Linked DNA regions of Homo sapiens. The protein of the gene in region 2 interacts with the protein of the main gene of each other region in a pairwise test. Each region holds a gene or a part of one and is shown on either strand. Other genes may lie near its edges. The genes, in order: ZDHHC4, CLDND1 and CXCR1.

Region 1 (7,524 bases), on a different chromosome or scaffold from region 2:
GGCTACCAAAACAGAATTCATCTAGACTTTAATGACATCTCAAAGCAAAAAGCAGAAAGACAAACAGAACAGAATTCACCAATTCTTAGGCACACATAACAGAGGCCTGCTGCCTCTCAGTGGGGCCTCCAAAATGGTCCTGAGCTCCCTCAATCAAGATAAAAATTCTGGGCCAGGTGCAGTGGCTCATGCCTGTAATCCCAGCACTCTGGGAAGCAGAGGTGGGTGGATCGCTTGAGCTCAGGAGTTCGAGACCAGCCTGGGCAACATAGTGAGGCCCTGTCTCAATTTAATAAAATAAAAAATAAAAAAAGAAAGATAAACTTTTTTTTTTTGAGACAGAGTTTCACTCTTGTTACCCAGGTTGCAGTGCGGTGGCGTGATCTTGGCTCACTGCAACCTCCGCCTCCCAGGTTCAAGCAATTCTCCTGCCTCAGCCTCCTGAGTAGCTGGGATTATAGGCACGCACCCCATGCCTGGCTAATTTTTGTATTTTTAGTAGAGATGAGGTTTCACCATGTTGGCCAGGCTGGTCTCGAACTCTTGAACTCAGGTGATCCACCTGCCTCGGCCTCCCAAAGTGCTGGGAGTACAGGCGTGAGCCACTGCACCTGCCCAAGATAAAAACTTTGAATCTAACACCCTAAGACTGTGGCCTGCCTTTGAAGCATCTCCAACTTGCAAATCCAAAATAAACCAAGAAAGAACATGCATCCTCCTTCCTTGCCCCCAGGCATGAATCATTCTTTTACTTCCTTAAATATTCACAAAGATACAAGATGTGTCCCCAAAGAATCTGCTGACAATGCCTTGAGAACAAGCATCTCCTAGAGGCAGTCAGGAGCCCTGCACCCAGAATCAGGCATCCTGTCCTAAGAAGCATCCCTCCAGGACACTGGCCACAACCATCAGGAATTACCCTCTGGAACCAGAGTCAACACACAGGCCTGCGTTAAAATACTGGATACTGAGGCCGAGCGTGGTGGCTCATGCCTGTAATCCCAACACTTTGGCATGTCGAGGCAGGCGGATCACGAGGTCAGGAGTTCGAGACCAGTCTGGCCAACATGGTGTAATCCCCATCTATACTAAAAACACAAAAATTAACCGGGCGTGGTGGCACATGCCTGTAATCCCAGCGACTCAGGGGGTGGAGGCAGGAGAATCTCTTGAACCCAGGAAGCGGAGGTTGCAGTGAGCCGAGATCGCGCCACTGCACTCCAGCCTGGGCAACAGAGCGAGACTCCGTTTCAAAAAAAAAAAAAGAAAAGACACTGGATACTGGAACTCTTTTCCATAGTGTAGCGGTTTAAGAAAAAAAAAGAAGAAAAAAAAGGTACTGGAATTGGCCGGCCGTAGTGGCTCGTGCCTGTACTCCCAGCACTTTGGAAGGCTGAGGTGGGAGGATCACTTGAACCCAGGAGTTCAAGACCAGCCTGGGCAACAAAGCGAGACCCCCATCTCTACAAAAAATACAAAAATTAGCCAAGTGTGGTTGCGCATGCCTGTGGAGGCTGAGGCGGGAGGATTGCTTGAGCACAGGAGTTCAAGCCTGGGCGACAGCATGAGACCCTGTCTCAAAAACAAACCAAAAAAGATACCGGAACTGGTCACTTTTGACCTTAGCAGATAAGATTCTGGGCTGTAATGCCAAGTGAGATAACCAAACAAGAAGCTATTCATGACATGATAGGTGAGAGTAAACAAACAGCAGCAATTCTCACGGGGTGATTCAGGGTACCCAGCCTACATTTCTCTTGGTTGGGTAATTTTCAGCCGGCAGCTCTGGCATTCCTCTTCCCAACATTCACAGATAATTCAAACAGCAGCTCCTCTTGGGCAGCAGTGTGTGCCTGGCATGACCAGTAGCTGCCGGACATGGTTCTTCCAGGAGCCTGGATCTGGCTGCAGAGACAGATCAATTCAACACCCACATAAGACGACAAGAGTTGCAGTCAAAGGCAGAATACCTGTGGAAAAGGATTTGGAAGTAGGGGATTTTCAGCACCCCCAGCATGAATGGGTAAGACTTTGGGAGAAATGGCCCAGACTAAGTTGCTTAGGCCTGCTCCCAAATCTTTGGGAGGCCCAGGCAGGAGGATAGCTTGAGGTTAAGAGTTCGAGACCAGCCTGGGCAACACAGTGAGATCACTGTCCCTACATAAAAATTTAAAAATCAGTGGGGCGTGGTGGCCCGCGCCTGTGGTCCCAGCTACTTGGGAGGCTGAGGTGGAAGGATGGCTTGAGCCCAGGAGGTCGAGGCTGCAGTGAGCTGTGATCGTGCCACTGCCTTCCAGCCTGGGCCATAGAGCTGGACCCCATCTCTAAAAACAATAAAAGAGGCCGGGCGCGGTGGCTCACGCCTATAATCCCAGCACTTTGGGAGGCCGAGGCGGGTAGAACACCTGAGGTCAGGAGTTCGAGACCAGCCTGACCAACATGGTGAAATCCGTCTCTACTAAATACAAAAAAAATTAGCTGGGCGTGATGGCGCATGCCTGTAATCCAAGCTACTGGGGAGGCTGAGGCAGAATTGCTTGAATCCGGGAGGCGGAGGGTGCAGTAAGCCGAGATCGCGCCACTGCACTACAGCCTGGGAAACAAGAGCGAAACCCCGTCTCAAAATACAATAATAATAAAGACTTTGTGAGAAACAGCTAGTTGGGAAGAAATAAGCCAAGTCGGTAGCCTTGGGTCTCTCCCCGCCACTCCCCATTAGGGCCTCCCGAAGCCACCCCCATCCAAGGCACCTCCTGGGCGGGCCTGGTCGGAGATTTCCCTGGGGGCTGGAGCCCTGGTAGGGGGACGTGGAGTGCAGCAGGCTCGGAGGGGACACCGGGGCCGCCCCGGACTCGGGCGAGGTGGGGGTGGGACGGCGGCCCTACACACAAGGGGAAAGGGAGGGTCAGAGGAGGAGACTGACGGTCCTGGGACAGCCCAAGCTTCCCACAGCCCCGCGGAGGCGGCCTTACCGCCAGCCGCTGGGCTCCGGCGCCTCCCGGGCGCGATACGAGACTTCCTGCGGGCTCGTGACATCAGCACGGCGCCCCTGAGGGGCTGACTTCCGGCGGAAGTGTGCGAGGGCCGCCGCGGGTTGCGGGGCTGGAGTAACAGTGACCTCCCCGGCGCCCTCGCAGCCAGCCTGGGGACCTCCGTGGCCGGGTGTAACCGCTGGGAAGTGCGATTTTATTTTATTTTATTTTATTTTATTTTATTTTATTTTATTTTATTTTATTTTATTTTATTTATTTTATTTTATTTATTTTATTTTATTTATTTTATTTTATTTATTTTATTTTATTTATTTTATTTTATTTTATTTTATTTTATTTTATTTTATTTTATTTATTTTATTTTATGTATTACCTATTTTCTTATTTACTTATGTATTCGTTCATTCATTCAGAAACAGCCTCGCTCTGTCGCCCAAGCCGGAGTGCAATGGCGCTATCCTAGCACACTACAACCTCCAACTCCTGGGCTCAAGCAATGCCTCCTGCCTCAGCCTCCCAAGTAGCTGGGACCACAGGTGCATGCCACCACACCCGCCTAATTTTTTTTTTTTTTTTTTTTTTTTTGTAGAGACGGGTGTCTCACTATGTTGCCCAAGCTGATCTCGAACTCCCGGGCTCAAGTGATCCTCCCACCTCGGCCTCCCAGAGTGTTGAGATTACAGGCGTGAGTCCCTGCACTGGGCTGGAAGTGGGATTTTAGAGCAGTATTGCCAGGAGACTTACAGGAGGACCGACCTGGGCCTGGTGGGGGCGATCATTCTGGGGCTGTGACAGGGACTAAGCTGCCCTGCGGCCTGCACAGAGACCAGTCATGTCCCTGCTCAGAGCCCAGCAGGGGGATCCAGGTGGCCCAGGGCAGTCACACTTAGGGGGCTCTCAGACTATGTCTGTGTGGTGGACAGAGTTTGCTTTCAGCCACCCACACTGTTGAGATCTAGCAGAACATTTCCAGCATCTTCCGTTGCAGAAGCGGGCAGAAAGCACAATGTGTACCCATCAGTCAGATTCCGCTCCATGTGTGTCCTTGCTCCTGATGACAAGGACATGTTGCTCTGTACAGCCCTAAATATCCTCGGGGCAGTGACAAATACTTGACCACAAACGTTGAGGATAAAAGGGAAGGGTGTTTGATGCTAGGCAGGCTTGGGGTAACAAGAGCTGCTTCCAAACATAGCCCTGAGAAGGCCCTGTGGGGTGTCCTTTGCTCTGACCATCTCTGAATCAGCTGAGGCCAGGGTCTATTCCTGATGCCTCTGAAGACCTGAGCCAGGCCTGTCCTCCTTTGAGGGGAAATGTCTGATCTCCAAACACTGGCCTTAAAGCTCTTCTCTTTTCCTGTCTCTTTGCTACCTACGTCAGCTTCTTGATGCGTTTTCTTTTCCTTTTTATGAAACTCCTTACCAACAGGATGCCTTCTCCTGTGTACATTGTATCCAAGGTCTTCATAAATTTATGGACCCAGAATTGAAAAACCAAGGCTCATACCTATAATTCCAGCACTTCAGGAGGCCGAGGTGGGAGGATCGCTTGAGCCCAGGAGTTTGGGAACAGTCTGGGCAACATATGGAGACCTTGTCTCTACAAAAAATTTAAAAATTAGCCGGGTGTGCTGGCATGCACATGTGGTCCCAGCTACTTAGGAAGCTGAGGTGGGAGGATTGTTTGAGCCCAGGAGGTCAAGGCTGCAGTGCGTTAGGATCACACCACTGCATTCCAGCCTGGACCACAAAACAAGACCCTGGTTCAGAAAAAAAAAAAAAAAAAGATTAATCTCTCAGCACTTGGTCAGTTCCTGAAACCTAGGCATGTTTGATTTTTTGCCTCTTTAAAACATCCAAGCGCAAACCTTGACACCTGCATTTTATAAATAGCATAAGAGAAAACAGACTACTTAAGCTTAAAACCAAAAATTCAAGTGTGATCAAAAGGATTGCCTTGCTTGTGATGCATGGAGCAAAGAATTCCTCTTTGGAGTGTTGCTAAACGCTCCTGTCAGCTCCTGAAACTGGACCTGCAGTATCAGTTTTTTACCTGCTGTGAGATCAGTTGACAGGATCAACCAGCTTTACACCACGATCTCTTGTCCCCAAGGGAATGATGGATGCTATACTTTGGAAATGGGATACAGGACTTCGTAGCTACGCTTGCAAAAGGCATATCACACATGATGCTTGTTTACAATCAGTGATTTATTGACCATGAGGAATTTTGCCATGGAGAAATTAAGAAGAAGGAAAGGAACATAAAAGTATTTTTGAACCATGCATAGTGGCTTATACCGGTAATCCCAACACTTTGGGAGGCTGAGGAGGGCTGATCCCTTGAGACCAGGAGTTTAAGACAAGGCTGAGCAACCTAGTGAGACCTCACCGCTACAAAAAAGTTTTCAATTAGTTAGGTGTGGTGGTGTACACCTGTAGTCTCAGCTACTTGGGGAGGCTGAGGCAGGATGAGGCAGGAAGATTGCTTGAGTCCAGGAATTTGAGACTGCAGTGAACCATGACTGTGCCACTGTATTTCAGCTTGGGCAATAGAGCAAGACCCTGTCTCAAAAAAAAAAAAAAAGAAAAGAAAAGAAAAAAAAAAGGACTGGATCTGTGTTGGCTTACTGTTATATCAGTAGCAACTATTTTAGCACCTAGCTCATAGTAGATGCCCAATAAAAATGTATCAACTGAATGAATGAAAGAAAATGATAACTTATATCAGAAGGAAATCTACATCCTTGATATCACTCAAAAAAAATTCCTGTGGCCAGTAGGTGGGGCCACAGTTGTCACTATTAGCTGGCTTGGAGCATACATTATGGGTGCCCAGTTTACACCCAAATTTCCACTTTGCCTTTGCTACTGTAATTGCTGCCCCGTGCCTTTTTTTTTTTTTTTCTTTTTTTTGAGACAGTCTCGCTCTGTTGCCCAGGCTGGAGTGCAGTGGCGGGATCTCAGCTCACTGCAACCTCTGCCTCCTGGGTTCAAGTGATTCTCCTGCCTCAGCCTCCCGAGTATCTGAGACTGCAGGCATGCGCCACCACACTCAGCTAATTTTTGTATTTTTAGTAAAGACAGGGTTTCGTCGTGTTGGCCAGACTAGCCTTGAACACCTGACCTCAGGTGATCCACCTGCCTCAGCCTCACAAAGTGCTGGGATTACAGGTGTGAGCCACCACGCCCAGCCCTCAAAGTAGATTAAACAACAAAAGAGACATCTTGGTCCCTGCCATTGGAATGTCCAGAAATGATGCTGGCTTCAGGAATGACTTGAACCCGCAGCCCAATGGCATGATCAAGAATCAATGTTCTTTTTATCCCTCACTCTGACTGGAAGATCAGCTTCATCTGAAGACCAGCTTTCCTCCTGATGATGGGATGGCCACCAGCCATAGCTGGGGCTTCATGCATCCACACCCACATCCAGTGAAGGGAGAGTGGGGAGGTCTCCCTCCAGGCCCAAGTAGGAGTACTGACATTCAGTGTGATTAAGCTGGCTTGGGTCATAGACTCACCCCTGAACCATGATGCCACCAGGAAAATGGAATGTGGCCTTTGTCTTGGGTAAAACAAGGCCTCCTGCTGAAGCTACAGAGGATCAGTTTCCCCCAAAGCACATGAGTTGCTCAGGTGAGGGGCTGGATTCTGGAAGGATGTGTGGGCCCTACTGGGAAGGTACATGGATGCTGGCCAGGTAGGCAATCAATCAGTGGACATCTAATAAGTGATATCTGGAATGATGCAAGGAATGTGTCAAAAATGTCTCTTCAAATTAAGATTCTACCCAGGGCCGGGCATGGTGGCTTATGCCTGTAATCCCAGCACTTTGGGAGGCCGAGGAGGGCAGATCACGAGGTCAGGAGATCGAGACCATCCTGGCTAACACGGTGAAACCCCGTCTCTACTAAAAACATAAAAAAAAATTAGCCGGGCGAGGTGGTGGGCGCCTGTAGTCCCAGCTACTGGGGAGGCTGAGGCAGGAGAATGGCGTGAACCTGGGAGGCGGAGCTTGCAGTGAGCTGAGATCAAGCCACTGCACTCCAGCCTGGGCGACAGAGCGAGACTCTGTCTCAAAAAAAAAAAAATTCAACCCAGGGCCGGGTGCGGTGGCTCATGCCTGTAATCCCAGCACTTTTGGAGACCTAGGCGGGTGGATCACCTGAGGTCCAGAGTCCGAGACCACCCTGGCCAACATGGAGAAACCCCGTCTCTACTGAAAACACAAAACATTAGCTGGGTGTGGTGGTGGGTGCTTGTAATCCCAGCTACTCGGGAGGCTGAGGCAGGAGCACCGCTTGAACCCGGGAGGCAGAGGTTGCAGTGAGCAGAGATCACGCCACTGCACTCCAGCCTGGGCAACAGAGTGAGACTCCGTCTCAAAAAAAAAAAAAAAATTCAACCCCCGATGAATGAAGGTGCAAGAGTGAGAACATGAGATGCTTGGGGCATGGTAGGAACTTTTGATGCGTGTCCTTCATTTCCCAGACTCAAAGGCAAATCTATTAATACAATTCCTTCCTGGC
Region 2 (7,784 bases):
TACTGGCTTATTTCCATTGGTAACTAATATATAGATAGAAATGATGTTACTATTCTAGGAATATATACTTTAGATTTCTTCGAAATAGCAGATTTAATCTGAATTTAGGTTGTGCATAACAAAAATTATGTTTATTTATGTTGGTGTCCTTGGCATCCAGCAGAGTGTCTGGCAAGCAATAGATGGTCAATAAATGATTATAGATCTGGGATGAATCATGCTTGAATTTTGAGTTATTTCCGCAGAGTAGGGACTTTTCACAAACTTCTTAGACAGCTTCCATTTTCTATTCAGTCCTGGGATCTTTGTCACATCATAAACTAATATGAAGAGATGTTTCTAAGTTAATGCAGCACATTTTTTGTCAACTTATGCTTATGTTTTCACTTGGCACATCTTGTTGAATCAGAAGCAACTTGCAAACCAATAAATGTGAAAAATATCATTATCATGGCCTCATAATAAGTATGACGGATAGTGATGAGAAGAGGACTCTCTCAATGAAGACTCTTAAGTTTATTAATAATTAAATTAATTGATTATATTAGTTTCTTATCTGCAATAAGATTTTTTTTTGAAAAGTTATTTTTGGGAGGCCCACAATTCATACTCATAACTCTATACTAATAAGTGTCAATTAGAAGAAATCAGAAAAGTTTCCTTCCATAATTTTACCTTCATAATTACTGTTAATCTTTGAAATAGCAAGGGCTGTTTTTCGGTACCTTTTCTAATCAGAATGCATATAGTCTTCCTCCTTTTCCTTTGCAATCTACATTTGCCACTATCTCTGCTTCTAGTACATTGCCTAGGCTTGAGGTATAGGGTATATAAATTCTGCAATGAAACTCTAATGCTGTGGATCTATGAAAAACCGTATTTTGTAGTTGCATTATTCTTCTTCCAGTAGAATTATAAACTGTAAAATTTTAGAGCTTCAAGTGGTGTTAATGATCATTAGTACAACTGTTTTACTAAAGAGGACCCTAGGGTCCAGAAAGGGGTCATTAACCAAAGATCCATTGATAATTTTTAAATAAAGGATAATTTAAACTTAAACTTCTCATTTACATATGGGTCATTCACTGTCTTTCAGAAGCATGGGCATCTAAAAATTATAGTTTTTTACTATATGTGGCACTTTACAGGAATTACTAAAAAAAAAAAGGAGACATTTTAGGTGCACTTTTCTATTTGCCTTGATCTTGATTCTGTTATTGTTCTACAGTGAATGGGTGCAAGGAAATTCAAAGATAGGTACATTTTTAAAAATGGTTTTTGGTTGGAACCCAGAATTGTACATATTCCCATTTTTTTCCTTTCTGAACTCCAAAGTTCACAAGGGAAACAACCAGAAAAAAAATTACATGAAGAAACATAATGTAAATATATCTTATAATGTAGATATAACTTTTAGTTCCTAAAAATGTGCAATTAAAAATAAAATATTAAATGTATTGGGGAATTTAGTATTGATGGAAATTCTAGTGTGAAGGGTTGTTTCATAAGTACATAATAAAAACAAGTTACAACATCTGAGTATCTAGATTTTCAGTTATCGGTTTTATTTTAAATGTGCTATAACTATAATGCCTTCCGGTTGAAACTAGAACCATCTTTAACAAGTTAAGCTAGATGTCTCATTTAACTTCGCTTTTAAACCTAAATTCCATAATCTCTACATGGTTGCACAAAATCATCTTTCATATTTGTGAAAATATAAGGCTAGCTACCGTTTCTCAAACAGCAGAGTAAGAAGCAGAAGTAGAAATTTAGCTCCATTAATTAATTAAGGATTTATTTTACCTACTCATACAACAAGCAAGCATAAATAGAAATTAGGAAACACCAAAGATGCAGAGATAAACCAGAAATACGGTTGTGTGGTTGGTGAAACTGGGTGTGAAGAGGCCGTTCAGGTCCTCTCTCAGGATGATCAAAACCACAAACACGTAGAGACACCTCCAGGTTCACACTAGGTTGGTCAGTGAAATGCGTCCTGAGTGTTTTCTAGGCATTCTGAAGACTTGAAGGGTGCAAGTGTCATCCTCCTTTGCAGGTCTTCCCAGAAACATCCACCTCCTGAGTCATGGCGACTTGTGTATGATACGATCCCAGGCCTGGGAATCTCCTGAGAAGGGTTAAACAGGGATGCCCAAAATACTAGCCCTGGCAAATTTTTCCTAGTCATTTGGTGGTTAGTCCAGAGCTTCTCAAACCTGCTGAAGCGAGCAGGAACACCTCTCTGTATAAATGGCTTATCTCCATTTAGGGGTAGCCTCTAGGGTTAATCCAGGAGCTTTAAAAGCTGTCTGTCTTTTTCTGTCCTGTTTTTCCCGGTCGCCGCACGCTGTCCCGGTCCGCGCCTGCTCCCTGCGTGCCTTGTCGCCATGCCTCCGAAAATTGAGGAAATCAAGGACTTTCTGTTCACAGCCCAATGAAAGGATGCTGAATCTGTCAAGATCAAGAAAAATAAGGACAATGTGAAGTTTAAAGTTCGATGCAGCAGATATCTTTATACCCTGGTCATCAGTGAAAAAGAGAAGGCAGAAAAACTGAAGCCAGTCCCTGCCTCCTAGTTTGGTAGTGAAGGAGTTGAAATGAACCAGCCACACTGATTTGAACTGTATTAGAATACAAAAAAAAAAAAAAAAAAAGACTGTTCTCACTAAGCTTACTCAAATATTATATTCAACAAATATTTGCAAATACTAATAACTTAATGATTCTTTCCTAAACCTCAGGTCCTGTGCTGGGCGTTTTATATGTTTTTCTCAATCTTCACAATGATCATGTGGGATAGATGCTACTGTCAACATCCATATTTTGGAGAAAAGACAACCGAGACTTAAAGAAGGTTAATTCTCCAAAGTCACAAAATGAGTATATTCAAGTGTGTTACCATGGTAGTCAGTTACTCTAATATCCAAGTTTGCTACCAAGTCAGTTACTCTCTCTAGTTCCTTTATCTGTAGACTGAAGTTGTTTCTTCTCTCTCCTTTAAACTTCTCTTTTGCCTGGTTTACTGACCACATGATCTCAGTGGAGAGGTAAATCTGAAAGTGGGGAATTTCTTTTTTTGAGGCAGAGTCTTGTTCTGTCGCCCAGGCTGGAGTGCAGTGGCGTGATCTTGGCTCACTGCAAGCTCCGCCTCCCGGGTTCATGCCATTCTCCTGCCTCAGCCTCCCAAGTAGCTGGGACCACAAGCGCCTACCAACACGCCTGGCTAATTTTTTTGTATTTTTAGTAGAGACGGGGTTTCACCGTGTTAGCCAGGATGGTCTCGATCTCCCGACCTCGTGATCTGCCGCCTCGGCCTCCCAAAGTGCTGGGATTACAGGCGTGAGCCACCATGCCCGGCGGAAAATAGGGGATTTCTAATGAAGGCCAATGGATGAAGACATTTCCTGGAGTATAAGGGCATTTATGTGTCTTACTACACATTGACAATTTGCCTGTGCCTCTCCATCACTTTCTCTAGTTGGTGCCTCTGACAAATTTTTTTTTGATTATATGCTGTATATGAAAATCCAGAGTCATGTTTGAATATATTTGGCTACTACCTTATTATGTGCTGCATATGAATATCAGTTTCACCCACTCAGGTCAAAGAAATGTAAGTACAGATAGAGAAACATATCATGCCTTTAATCTGTCAAAGTGGTAGAAATTTAATATCAACTTGCAGCTCCCATCTTTCTCCTATGCTAAATTACAAGGCATTAGGGGACAGAGTGGGGGTTTGAGAGCCCCTCTGGTCCTTGAGTCAGCTTTCTCTGTCGGTTACTGTTGAGAAATCCACCATTTGCTGGTCCCAGGCCACGTTAATAGTTCCACTCATGTTATTGTTAAGATGTCCCTGCTTCCTGTCCATGAATTTCTGTGTTAAACCTGAGGGTTCAGAATCATTGTTGCCCCTGTGCCACACATCATCTGCAATCTCCAATGCTGTCCATGACCTTATCTGCTTGAGTGATGTTCCCCAAATTTCAGTCTTTTTCCTACTATACCCACAATTTTTTATTCATTTTTTGACATATCTGGTATCCTCAGTATTATTAACTTAATAGTTTTTAAAATAAGTGAAAAGAATTTAAAAGGAACAACATTGCTGCAATAGAAAACTAGTATCACTTGTCATAAAAAGAAGGCAGCTACAAACACATTTTATGAAACCCAAATAATATCATTACATTCTTGATGGATACTGTCTGCCAGGTCACATACTTCTTAGCCTAAACTTATGCAATAAAACCAGAAGGATGCTCTGCTCCAATGGGAGGGATTCTGGGAGAGGGAAATAAAATGGGTCAACGTTTCACAAGTAGAATCCCATTTTTGTTCATTTATACTTAGATCTAGAGGCAGGGTGGTGTGATAGGGAAAGCACAGGCCTAAAAGTCAGATCTAAGTTATACAAGTCACGGTCATTGACTCGAGATGACCGGAAACAGGCCCGCTTTACTTTCTGGACCATTCTCCCTTCCTCCCTAAAATGCAAGAATCCAACAGCCTAGACTTCCCTTCTGCGTACCGGCTTGCCCTGAGGAGCTGAACTACATCTCCCACAATGCGCCGCGCGCGGCGCCAGGAATGCCTATCGCCGCCTCAGACAGCTTTCAGTCTGTCCCTCCTACAACTCCCACAAGGCCCCTCGGCCCCGGGCCGCGGCCCGGCCCGGAGTGGGGGCGGGCGGAGGCGCGGGAGTTATGGAGGGGGCGGGCTCTGCAGGGAAGTGCGTCAGAGGAGGCGCGGGGAGAGTAGGGTGCTGTGGTCTGAGCTAGAGGGTGAAGCTGGCGGAGCAGGAGGATGGGCGGTGAGTGAGCGGGACCTGCGTCGCCGGGCAGGGGTCGCGTCGCGGTTCCATGTTCCCGGCGGTTTGAAGAGGGGCCCCCTTCCCGGGCGTGGTCGGGCTGGGCGGGTTCCGAGCGGCGGATTTGTCCCAGGGCCGAGCCCTCTAGGGCGGGGCCTGGTCGGGTACCGGGGGACCCTGGCCCGGGGCCGAGCACGGCTGCCCCGCCCCAGCCCTGGCCTTCTCCGGCCCCGCCGTGAGGCCCAGGAGGTGGCTGCTGCAGGCGTCCGGCTTGGACGAACCGCCGTTCCCAGTGCTGGGACCCTTTAAGGTCATTTGAGAGCACCAGGATGAAGGGGGGATTTTTAAAAAATCAAAATACAAATCCAACTTTTTGAGTTTTCGTTGTCATTGCTCTTATCTTTCCTGAGTCACTTCCCATTTTCCAAACTCAGCAACCCCAGTTTGCGAGTCTGTTTTCATGAACCTTTGTAAGGTGTTTGGTGCGGTCACGGTGTATACTTGCCGTGTAGTATTTGACTCAGCGCGATCTGCCTTGAGTCATTTTACCGCGGCCATTTACTACTGCCGTTGAGCCCTGTCCACGCCTTGGGAGTGTTGATATGTTGAGAGTTTTCTGTCTGGCTGAGGAGGGATCATTTAGTTTTTGCGGACGTATGTTGCACTGAGGATTTAGGGAGAGAGCAAGATTTCTGTTGAGGAGGTTCAGAAGTATAAGGAATCGGGAGAGTAGATAGGAGTGAAGCATTTGGCAGCGTAAAGAAGCTTGGCTTAGCTTTAATGGATTAGGGAGAGATTGCTATCTAGCATTATTACATGTTATTGTTCTCTTTGCTATTTTATACACCTAGAACAACCTTTCCCTCGGGGTTAACAAACATCTTCAACTCTGTTTTCTGTATGGCTCCTGACTCTTACCTTTGTTTTAGGAGGCTTCCCTCTTCAGAGGAAACTGGGAGAAGCCAATTTCCACTGCTTCTTTTTCCTGTGCCTTTTTAACACTCAAACCCAGAACACTTAATCCTCTGCAGCTCGTGCAAAAATTCAGTCTGTAATTTAAAATGTGTGCACGGTACACTGCTGACCATGGGCATGTCTATTGTTTGTATCTGTAATGTGTATGTCCATTTCAGTGTTGTCTGTTTTAGTATGCAGGTGATAGACTAGAGAACAAGACCTCTGTCTCCGTAGCATCCTGGGTATGTGAGCATTCAATAAGTACTTTTATGAGAATGAGTTTTGTTTTAAGCTTAATTAAAAACATGCTTGCTTTCTAAAAAAAATTCTTAATGGTTATATGTACGAAGGGATGGGGAATTGGGTAAAGGGTGCATTTGGAATAATTCAAAATAATCTTTCTTATTTGTCCGTAAACTCTAACTTATCTTCTTTCTTCAACTTCTAAACAGAGCAGTCTGAATGCCAGAATGGATAACCGTTTTGCTACAGCATTTGTAATTGCTTGTGTGCTTAGCCTCATTTCCACCATCTACATGGCAGCCTCCATTGGCACAGACTTCTGGTATGAATATCGAAGTCCAGTTCAAGAAAATTCCAGTGATTTGAATAAAAGCATCTGGGATGAATTCATTAGTGATGAGGCAGATGAAAAGACTTATAATGATGCACTTTTTCGATACAATGGCACAGTGGGATTGTGGAGACGGTGTATCACCATACCCAAAAACATGCATTGGTATAGCCCACCAGAAAGGACAGGTATTTCTCTTATTTTAACTTCTGTCTTCTTCACCTGGTTAATAATAGACAAAACGACGTAATGATTGCCCAATTACATGTAAGCAGGTTTGTTGGTTCTCTCTCTCCTTAAAGAAATAAATCGTGTATCTTCTCTTTCTACTGCCTTCTCTCCCCAACTTCTTTGCATTACCATGGTACTCATCAATATTGGTTGGATGAGGAACTTTTCTTATCTTGGGAAAGCCTTAATGGCTTTTTTTTTTCTTATTTACTCACTCATTAAAATACTTTTCATTACTCTAACACATGTTATAAAGAAATAGTTGGAAAAGTACATCGAAAGACTTTTAAAAATATTTGGTAACTAGTAAAAGGACTACCATCGAAAATCAACTCAAAAAATTGTCCTTTTATGGGTTAGCTGTATTATAATACATATCTATCATTTGCCCCTGTGTCTTAGAGGATATAATTTGACCAGCTCTACATTTAATCTGTGTAATTATGAGACTGTTTTACAACAATCTTGATGCAGAGTTGGTAGGTTAAGAAATTTGTATTACAGAAGTTAAAAAAAAAAAACCAAAAACTAGATTTTTAGGTTTATTTTACAGGCATTCTTATTTAACACTTAAAGATTTTGATTTCCAGTTATTAAAATGGTAGCTTTAGAACTCTTTGTAAGGAACAACTTTACAGTTTATTTATGACTACTTCTGTTGGCCCCTTAGTGGGGAAGCATTGTATTCAAATCATAGCAGAACAGGCTTGAGTTATGATATATCAAAAGGATGATAATATGTCACTGTATCTGGAAAAAAAGATAATTTGGAAGGAAAGGAGAGAAAGTTGGTTAAAATTCATTGTAAAATGTTCAGTTTGACTTATGAGGTTACAGGAGCACTTGATATTGAAATTGGAGTTGGAATTGGAGTGTTACCATTTAGTCATTCATTAAACAAATAATTTATTGCATGTCTCCATGTTCCAGGGCCTCTTAGCTGGGAGAACATCAGGAAAGAACAAAATCCTTACTCCTGGGGAGCTAGCATTCTAATAAAGGATGACAGGCAGTGAACAGAATATAACAGTATAAACAGAATAAATAATTATTCAGTATGTTAAAAGATGACATGTGCTATGGCAAAATAGAACACAAAAGGGATTTGGAAATATGTGGGAAAAGGAATATTGGTGGCCATAGGTTATGATTTTCAATAGGATACTTAAAGTAGGTCTCATTGAGAAGACACCACTTGAGTAAAGAATG
Region 3 (6,965 bases), on a different chromosome or scaffold from region 2:
GGACTATAGGTGTGTGCTAGTACATCCAGATAATTAAAACATTTTTGTAGAGATGGGTGTCACTACGTTGCCCAGGCTCACTTTATTTATTTATTTAGAGACAGGATCTCACTTCATCACCCAGGCTGGAGTGCAGTGGTGTGATCATAGCTCATTGTAGCCTTGACCTTTCTGGCTTAAGTGATCCTCCTGCCTCACCCTCCCTAATAGCTGGGACTACAGGCACACACCACCATGCCCAGCTAATTTTTACTTTTACTTTTTATTTTTAGAGAGATAGGTCTTGCTATGTTGCCCAGGCTTGTCTTGAACTCCTGAACTCAAGCAATCCTCCCACATTGGCCTCTCAAAGTGTTGGGATTACAGGCATAAGCCACCATGCCTGGCCTATTTATTTATTTGTTAATTTTTTTAAAAAAAATTGAGATTGCAGGAAATAATTTTTAAATTTAATTTTAGTTTTAAAACGGAGATTGCAGGAAACAAATATGCTCACTTTTCAAGGTCCTTCTCTGGCTTCCTCTGGAGACTGGAGATCAGGGCTGGGAGGTCTGCACCTGGCTAGGTCACGTGTCTGTCAATGCCCCTGTATCTTTACCACTGCAGCCTTGACCCAGTGTCTCACTGACACTACTCCCTGCTCCTCTCATCCTAGACCACATTTGGTTTCCAGAACTCTCACAGTTGGGCATGTTTTGGTTGCTGGTAACAGAAAAGTCAACTTAAACTGGTCTTAACAATAAAGACAATTTATTGGCTCATGGAACCGAAGAAAGTACAGAGAGAAGATGGCCTCTGGGCATGGTTTGTTCAGGACTCTTGGTCTGTTTCTCTGATTCTCTCAACTCTGCCTTCTTCTGTGTGTTGGTTTTTTCCTTGGACTGTTTTTGCCATTTATGGTAGCAAAATGGCTGCTGACTGCAACAAGACTATATACTTGCTTTTCCACATTCATTGAGCAAACATCTGAACTTTGCTCTGACTGGATCATCTTGGGTCACAGACTCACTCCCTGAGCCTGTTGCTGTGGTTACGAGGACGTCACTGGGGAGAGAGGAGAAACCTCCCTCTACCCCTTTCCTCTACTTTGATCCCAGATCCAAGTGGATTCTTCTGGAGGAATGAGAAGAGATGCTGAAGCTGGCATAAGGCTGATGCAGGGACAAAATAGATGTTCTTACAGCCACATTGTGCTGTTCACATGGTCTGTGCAGAAGTCATCATGTTTAAAACAGAGTGGTAAGAAGATGTCACCCAAAGAGATACTACATTTTGCCAGTTGACTGGCATTCGGGCTGCACCTGTCACAGCTTTCTTTGTGGCATTAGGAGCTCTACATGGAATGGAAAAATGCTTCTCAGCAGGAACATTCTAGGCCATTTTAAGAGGGCACAGTTATAAGTGGGAAGTGAGGTATAGAAGATAGGTTGGGTGGGCTGACTTGCTGGAACATTTTGAAGTGGGTAAAATTTTATTCTAAACTCATCTATATGTGCTTTCTCCCTCCTTCAGTGAAATGCTCGTCCTACTGCGAAGTGAAAGGTTCTTTCCACCCTTGTCCTCCAGATGCAACTTCTCCTGGAGACCCCAGCATTGCTGTTGCCCTCACCACACTCATGCAGCAGGGCTGCTCCCCTTCACTCCTCGGGCTCCAGGAGACCAGCCTCTTCCCTAACCCCTCAGTGATTCCTTGAAATAGACTGGAATAGTGAACCGACTTACTGAGGGTTTAGGAAAAGCAGAAGGGAACTATACACCAAGAAGAACTTAACATACGGTGTTAAATATACCTGCTCTTGGCCCTGGTCTTTCTCAAGGGGGTGTCTCACAGGGGATTCCCTGTCTAGCAACTGCTGCCCCCTTGTGGCAAAAACTATCCTTCTCCCGGCCTCAGGGTCTTTCTTGAGTATAGGCAGGTGTTTTGCAGTCTAGGCCCCCGTCTTTTTTCTCCTGTGTCCCCAGTGACTATTTTCTGCCCTTGGGGCTGATTTTCCCTAGATGATTAATAGAGGGAGTCTCCCACCTCCTGGGACTACCCCATCTTTGACTCCTTTCTAGTCTAGGCGTTAGAGCACAATAGTCCAACATCAGTAAAAGCAAAGCATGAGTGGCTATTGTCCCCTTACACTTCCTGTTACCATCTATGAATGATAAAAGAGCCCAGGAGGAAAGCACAACTTAGCTTAAAAAATAGGCTTGCCGGCTGGGCATGGTGGCTTATGCCTGTAATCCCAGTGCTTTGGGAGGCAAAGGCAGGAGGATCACTAGAGGCTAGGAGTTCAAGATAAGCCTGGGCAGTATATCAGGACCCTTTCTCTACAAATAAATAAATAACTAAATAAAAAATAAAAATAAAAATATAATATAAAAAAAGAAAGCCAGATGTAGTGGCTCTTGCCTGTAGTCCCAGCTATTCAGGAGGTTGAGGTGGGAGGATTGCTTGAGCCCAGGCATTTGAGGTTACACTGAGCTATGATCACACCACTGCATTCTAGCCTTGGCAACACAGTGAGAGCCTGTCTCTTAAAAAAAGAAAAAAATTCTTTCCAGTGCAGAACTGTAGGAATCCATGGCATGGTAAATTTGGCATTTGTGGTAGGGCAGGATTTATACTTGCACAGACTGGCATTAGCTCCAAACATTAGAGGAAGGTTGGAAAGAAGCAATGCCAGGCAGACCAACTGGGCTGTGTGGAAGTGAAGCTATCAGGCATACCAGTGACTTTAGTGTGTAGCCAAAAGCAATAGACACTGAATCGTGGTGGTGACTTATGGTCCATGAATCACAGGAGAAATGTCTCCCTTCATTTATTCCACAACCATTGATTGAGCACCTACTATATTCCCTGAAAGAGAACATAAACATGAATTGAAGAAGGTTCTTGCTGTCTCATGGCTCCCAAGCTAGAAGAGGGCTGACTTGTAAATGCCTCACAGCAGGGTTCATGTTATATGGAGAAGTGACGAAGGTGCCAGAAGACTCAAGCTAGGGGACAGCCATTAGCTGCTGGAGGCAGCTAAGGTGGGTTCCCAGAGAAGCCATTCTCCGTTACTGAGATGGGGGCTGCAGTGACCTTGACCACAGCTCTTCCATTCATGGACTGCCCCAGCTCTGTGGTCTCTCTGCTAACCAGCCAGACTCTGGGAGTGGCCTATGCCGTCAGCCTCAGGGCCATTTAAACCAACTGGTCATTGGCAGTGATTGTGCGAAAGAGTGGCTGGCGGCAAAGGAGGGTTTGTGTTCCATTCAAATACCCTCAAAAAGCCTGAAAAATAAGTAGAGATTGAGGCCAGGCCTTGGAGTTGTGGAAGGTGGAGAACACTGGGAAGCCAACCTCCAAAGAAGACCAGGTTGGAGGCAAAGGAGGAAGGGGAGCTCTCGTTGGCAAACCAACAGGGAAGCCAAGGATATCCCAGTAACTGCTCTCACATCCTTGATGAGAATGCCTTGAATCCGAGCTAGGCCACCTCAAAGAAGCCTGCAAAATAAGTAGAGATTGAGTGCCTGCTGTTCAAACACAACTCAAGCGCAGTCCTCCTCCTCTTTCCCACTGGATTGCCCCCAAGTCCCTCCTATGGGGGACTCCTTCTGAAGTCTCTGCTGTAAGTCAAATCCTTCGCCCTTTATACTTGGTCAGGAAGTTGCAAGCTTCCACAGGTGATATACTAGGGAATTTAGGAATAAACAAATGGAAATAAATTCAAGAAAAGGAAAATAATAAAAATGATCATCCATAGAGTGGAGAATTCAGATAATGGACCCTCAACCCCAGCTTCACACCTGGGACCCCCACTTGGTCATATGGACCCTGGCAGTCTCTAATCACAAGTCTGTGATCCCTTGACTTAAACTGTTCTTCCCCAAATGTAGACATGGGTGGGGCTCAGAAGGGAGGTGTCATCTGATGTGGTTTCCTTATTTCCGTTTATTCATCAAGTGCCCTCTAGCTGTTAAGTCACTCTGATCTCTGACTGCAGCTCCTACTGTTGGACACACCTGGCCGGTGCTTCAGGTAGGAAGCCACCTCTGTTTGCTAGGACTTTCTGTGGGGTAGGGCTGCTTGGCTTGACTTTATTTTGGAAAATGTATTCATTTCTGTGGGAGCTGAGGATTTCTGCTGCCCGCTTCCTCTCTTGTGACCACCACTCATACATGGAGTTAGCAGGTGAAGAGGACAGCCTCCTCATCCCCTCTTTTTATACCTTGCCCTTTTGTGGGAAGAGGCTGACCATTCCCCAATTTGATGTTTATTGCTTCACCTTAAGACTTTGTCTTCAGTGAAAATGCAAATACTGGTAGGGAGGGAACACACTAAAATGTGTGGATCTGAGTGGACTCATCATACACCCTCAGGCCTGGCAGCAAATGAGAGGTGGATGATTCTGTCTTCCTCGATTTGCAGATGAGAAGACTGAAATCTATAGGGGTACGAGACCCCACTCAAGGTCATGAGACTTATTTATTTATTTATTTATTTATTTTGAGATGGAGTCTCACTCTGTCGCCTAGGCTGTAGTACTGTGGCACGATCTCGGCTCACTGCAACCTCCATTTCCCGGGTTCAAGTGATTCTCCTGCCTCAGCCTCCTGAGTAGTTGGGATTACAGGTGCACGCCACCACACCCAGCTAATTTTTTTGTATTTTTAGTAGAGACGGGGTTTCATCATTTTGGTCAGGCTGGTCTCGAACTCCTGACTTCATGATCTGCCTGCCTTGGCCTCCCAAAGGGCTGGGATTACACACGAAACTTATTAATGGTAGAATCAGGATGGAATGAAGACTGGATGCTAGGTGTCTTTACAACCAACCTCGGTGACTTTCCAAAGGCTTTCAGACTTCTCTGGAGAGTCCTGGAGCTTTGAGGGGCTCTTTAGGGGCCATCTGGGTTCGGAGATTAGCACACTCTGCCCCACAGTGGCTCAGCTTTTATCTGCTTCACATACTGGGCTTCTGGGAAGATCTTATTTCAGTAAACTATTTCACAATAGGAAATATATTTGAAAACTCTTGAATGATTCTGTGGATTTTTTCAGGGGTGGAGGGTTTCAGGGACCAAGATGGAGACTTTATCTTCTCAAATACTTAAAACTCCTTTAGACAGAGGAACAAAATATGTGCTCCTCATTTAAAGAAGGCTTAAAATATACAGTTTAATGCAATGTGTTGTTATCACTTCCTTCCCCCAGTAGATTTTAAGGAGGGTAAACAAGAATCAGGGAGAACATAGGAATAGAAATAGTAGAAGGGGACACCTGGGAACAGGTTTGCCTTCTTGCATTTTGCTTAATGCTGGCCCTTCCCTGAATGTCTAAGACCAACCTGGTCCCCACATCCAAATGCACAGACACAGCTGAGGATGGAGAAGGCTAAAGAGGGACAGAGGTAGAGACATAGGCTGAGAGGAGGCAGTTGTAGGTTGAGCTAGGGCTAAGGTGTTTTCCCCATATTCCATCTTACCCCACACTCAGGCCAGGCCTTAGAGTTGTGGAAGGTGGAGAACACTGGGAAGCCAACCTCCGAAGAAGACCAGGTTGGAGTCAAAGGAGGAAGGAGAGCTCTCATTGCCAAACCAACAGGGAAGCCAAGGATATCCCAGTAACTGCTCTCACATCATTGATGAGAATGCCTTGAATCCGAGCTACTAAATCACATTTCCTTCCTTCTAACCTTCCAGTTAGATCAAACCATTGCTGAAACTGAAGAGGACATGTCAAATATTACAGATCCACAGATGTGGGATTTTGATGATCTAAATTTCACTGGCATGCCACCTGCAGATGAAGATTACAGCCCCTGTATGCTAGAAACTGAGACACTCAACAAGTATGTTGTGATCATCGCCTATGCCCTAGTGTTCCTGCTGAGCCTGCTGGGAAACTCCCTGGTGATGCTGGTCATCTTATACAGCAGGGTCGGCCGCTCCGTCACTGATGTCTACCTGCTGAACCTGGCCTTGGCCGACCTACTCTTTGCCCTGACCTTGCCCATCTGGGCCGCCTCCAAGGTGAATGGCTGGATTTTTGGCACATTCCTGTGCAAGGTGGTCTCACTCCTGAAGGAAGTCAACTTCTACAGTGGCATCCTGCTGTTGGCCTGCATCAGTGTGGACCGTTACCTGGCCATTGTCCATGCCACACGCACACTGACCCAGAAGCGTCACTTGGTCAAGTTTGTTTGTCTTGGCTGCTGGGGACTGTCTATGAATCTGTCCCTGCCCTTCTTCCTTTTCCGCCAGGCTTACCATCCAAACAATTCCAGTCCAGTTTGCTATGAGGTCCTGGGAAATGACACAGCAAAATGGCGGATGGTGTTGCGGATCCTGCCTCACACCTTTGGCTTCATCGTGCCGCTGTTTGTCATGCTGTTCTGCTATGGATTCACCCTGCGTACACTGTTTAAGGCCCACATGGGGCAGAAGCACCGAGCCATGAGGGTCATCTTTGCTGTCGTCCTCATCTTCCTGCTTTGCTGGCTGCCCTACAACCTGGTCCTGCTGGCAGACACCCTCATGAGGACCCAGGTGATCCAGGAGAGCTGTGAGCGCCGCAACAACATCGGCCGGGCCCTGGATGCCACTGAGATTCTGGGATTTCTCCATAGCTGCCTCAACCCCATCATCTACGCCTTCATCGGCCAAAATTTTCGCCATGGATTCCTCAAGATCCTGGCTATGCATGGCCTGGTCAGCAAGGAGTTCTTGGCACGTCATCGTGTTACCTCCTACACTTCTTCGTCTGTCAATGTCTCTTCCAACCTCTGAAAACCATCGATGAAGGAATATCTCTTCTCAGAAGGAAAGAATAACCAACACCCTGAGGTTGTGTGTGGAAGGTGATCTGGCTCTGGACAGGCACTATCTGGGTTTTGGGGGGACGCTATAGGATGTGGGGAAGTTAGGAACTGGTGTCTTCAGGGGCCACACCAACCTTCTGAGGAGCTGTTGAGGTACCTCCAAGGACCGGCC

Evidence for each region.
Region 1: the proteins of CLDND1 (region 2) and ZDHHC4 interact in binary tests that used the Homo sapiens proteins (3 or more experiments, as listed by UniProt).
Region 3: the proteins of CLDND1 (region 2) and CXCR1 interact in binary tests that used the Homo sapiens proteins (3 or more experiments, as listed by UniProt).

What each region holds. Positions count from the first base shown.
Region 1 is NC_000007.14:6,572,947-6,580,470, reverse strand, and holds the start of ZDHHC4 (palmitoyltransferase ZDHHC4), read right to left. Parts: upstream 3,018-7,524; 5' UTR 2,973-3,017; exon of another isoform or gene 2,751-2,972; intron 2,594-2,750; exon of another isoform or gene 2,499-2,593; intron 1,971-2,498; exon of another isoform or gene 1,906-1,970; 5' UTR 1,808-1,905; coding exon of another isoform or gene 1,751-1,807; exon of another isoform or gene 1,725-1,750; intron 1-1,724. UniProt on the Homo sapiens protein: Palmitoyltransferase that catalyzes the addition of palmitate onto protein substrates including the D(2) dopamine receptor DRD2, GSK3B or MAVS.
Region 2 is NC_000003.12:98,519,881-98,527,664, reverse strand, and holds the start of CLDND1 (claudin domain-containing protein 1), read left to right. Parts: upstream 1-4,762; 5' UTR 4,763-4,809; coding exon of another isoform or gene 4,810-4,816; exon of another isoform or gene 4,817-5,123; intron 5,124-5,961; exon of another isoform or gene 5,962-5,968; coding exon of another isoform or gene 5,969-6,012; intron 6,013-6,222; coding exon of another isoform or gene 6,223-6,240; coding exon 6,241-6,532; intron 6,533-7,784. UniProt on the Homo sapiens protein: Plays a role in negatively regulating the permeability of cells to small molecules.
Region 3 is NC_000002.12:218,163,955-218,170,919, reverse strand, and holds the start of CXCR1 (C-X-C chemokine receptor type 1), read left to right. Parts: upstream 1-3,957; 5' UTR 3,958-4,012; intron 4,013-5,675; 5' UTR 5,676-5,708; coding exon 5,709-6,761; 3' UTR 6,762-6,965. UniProt on the Homo sapiens protein: Receptor to interleukin-8, which is a powerful neutrophils chemotactic factor. Binding of IL-8 to the receptor causes activation of neutrophils. This response is mediated via a G-protein that activates a phosphatidylinositol-calcium second messenger system.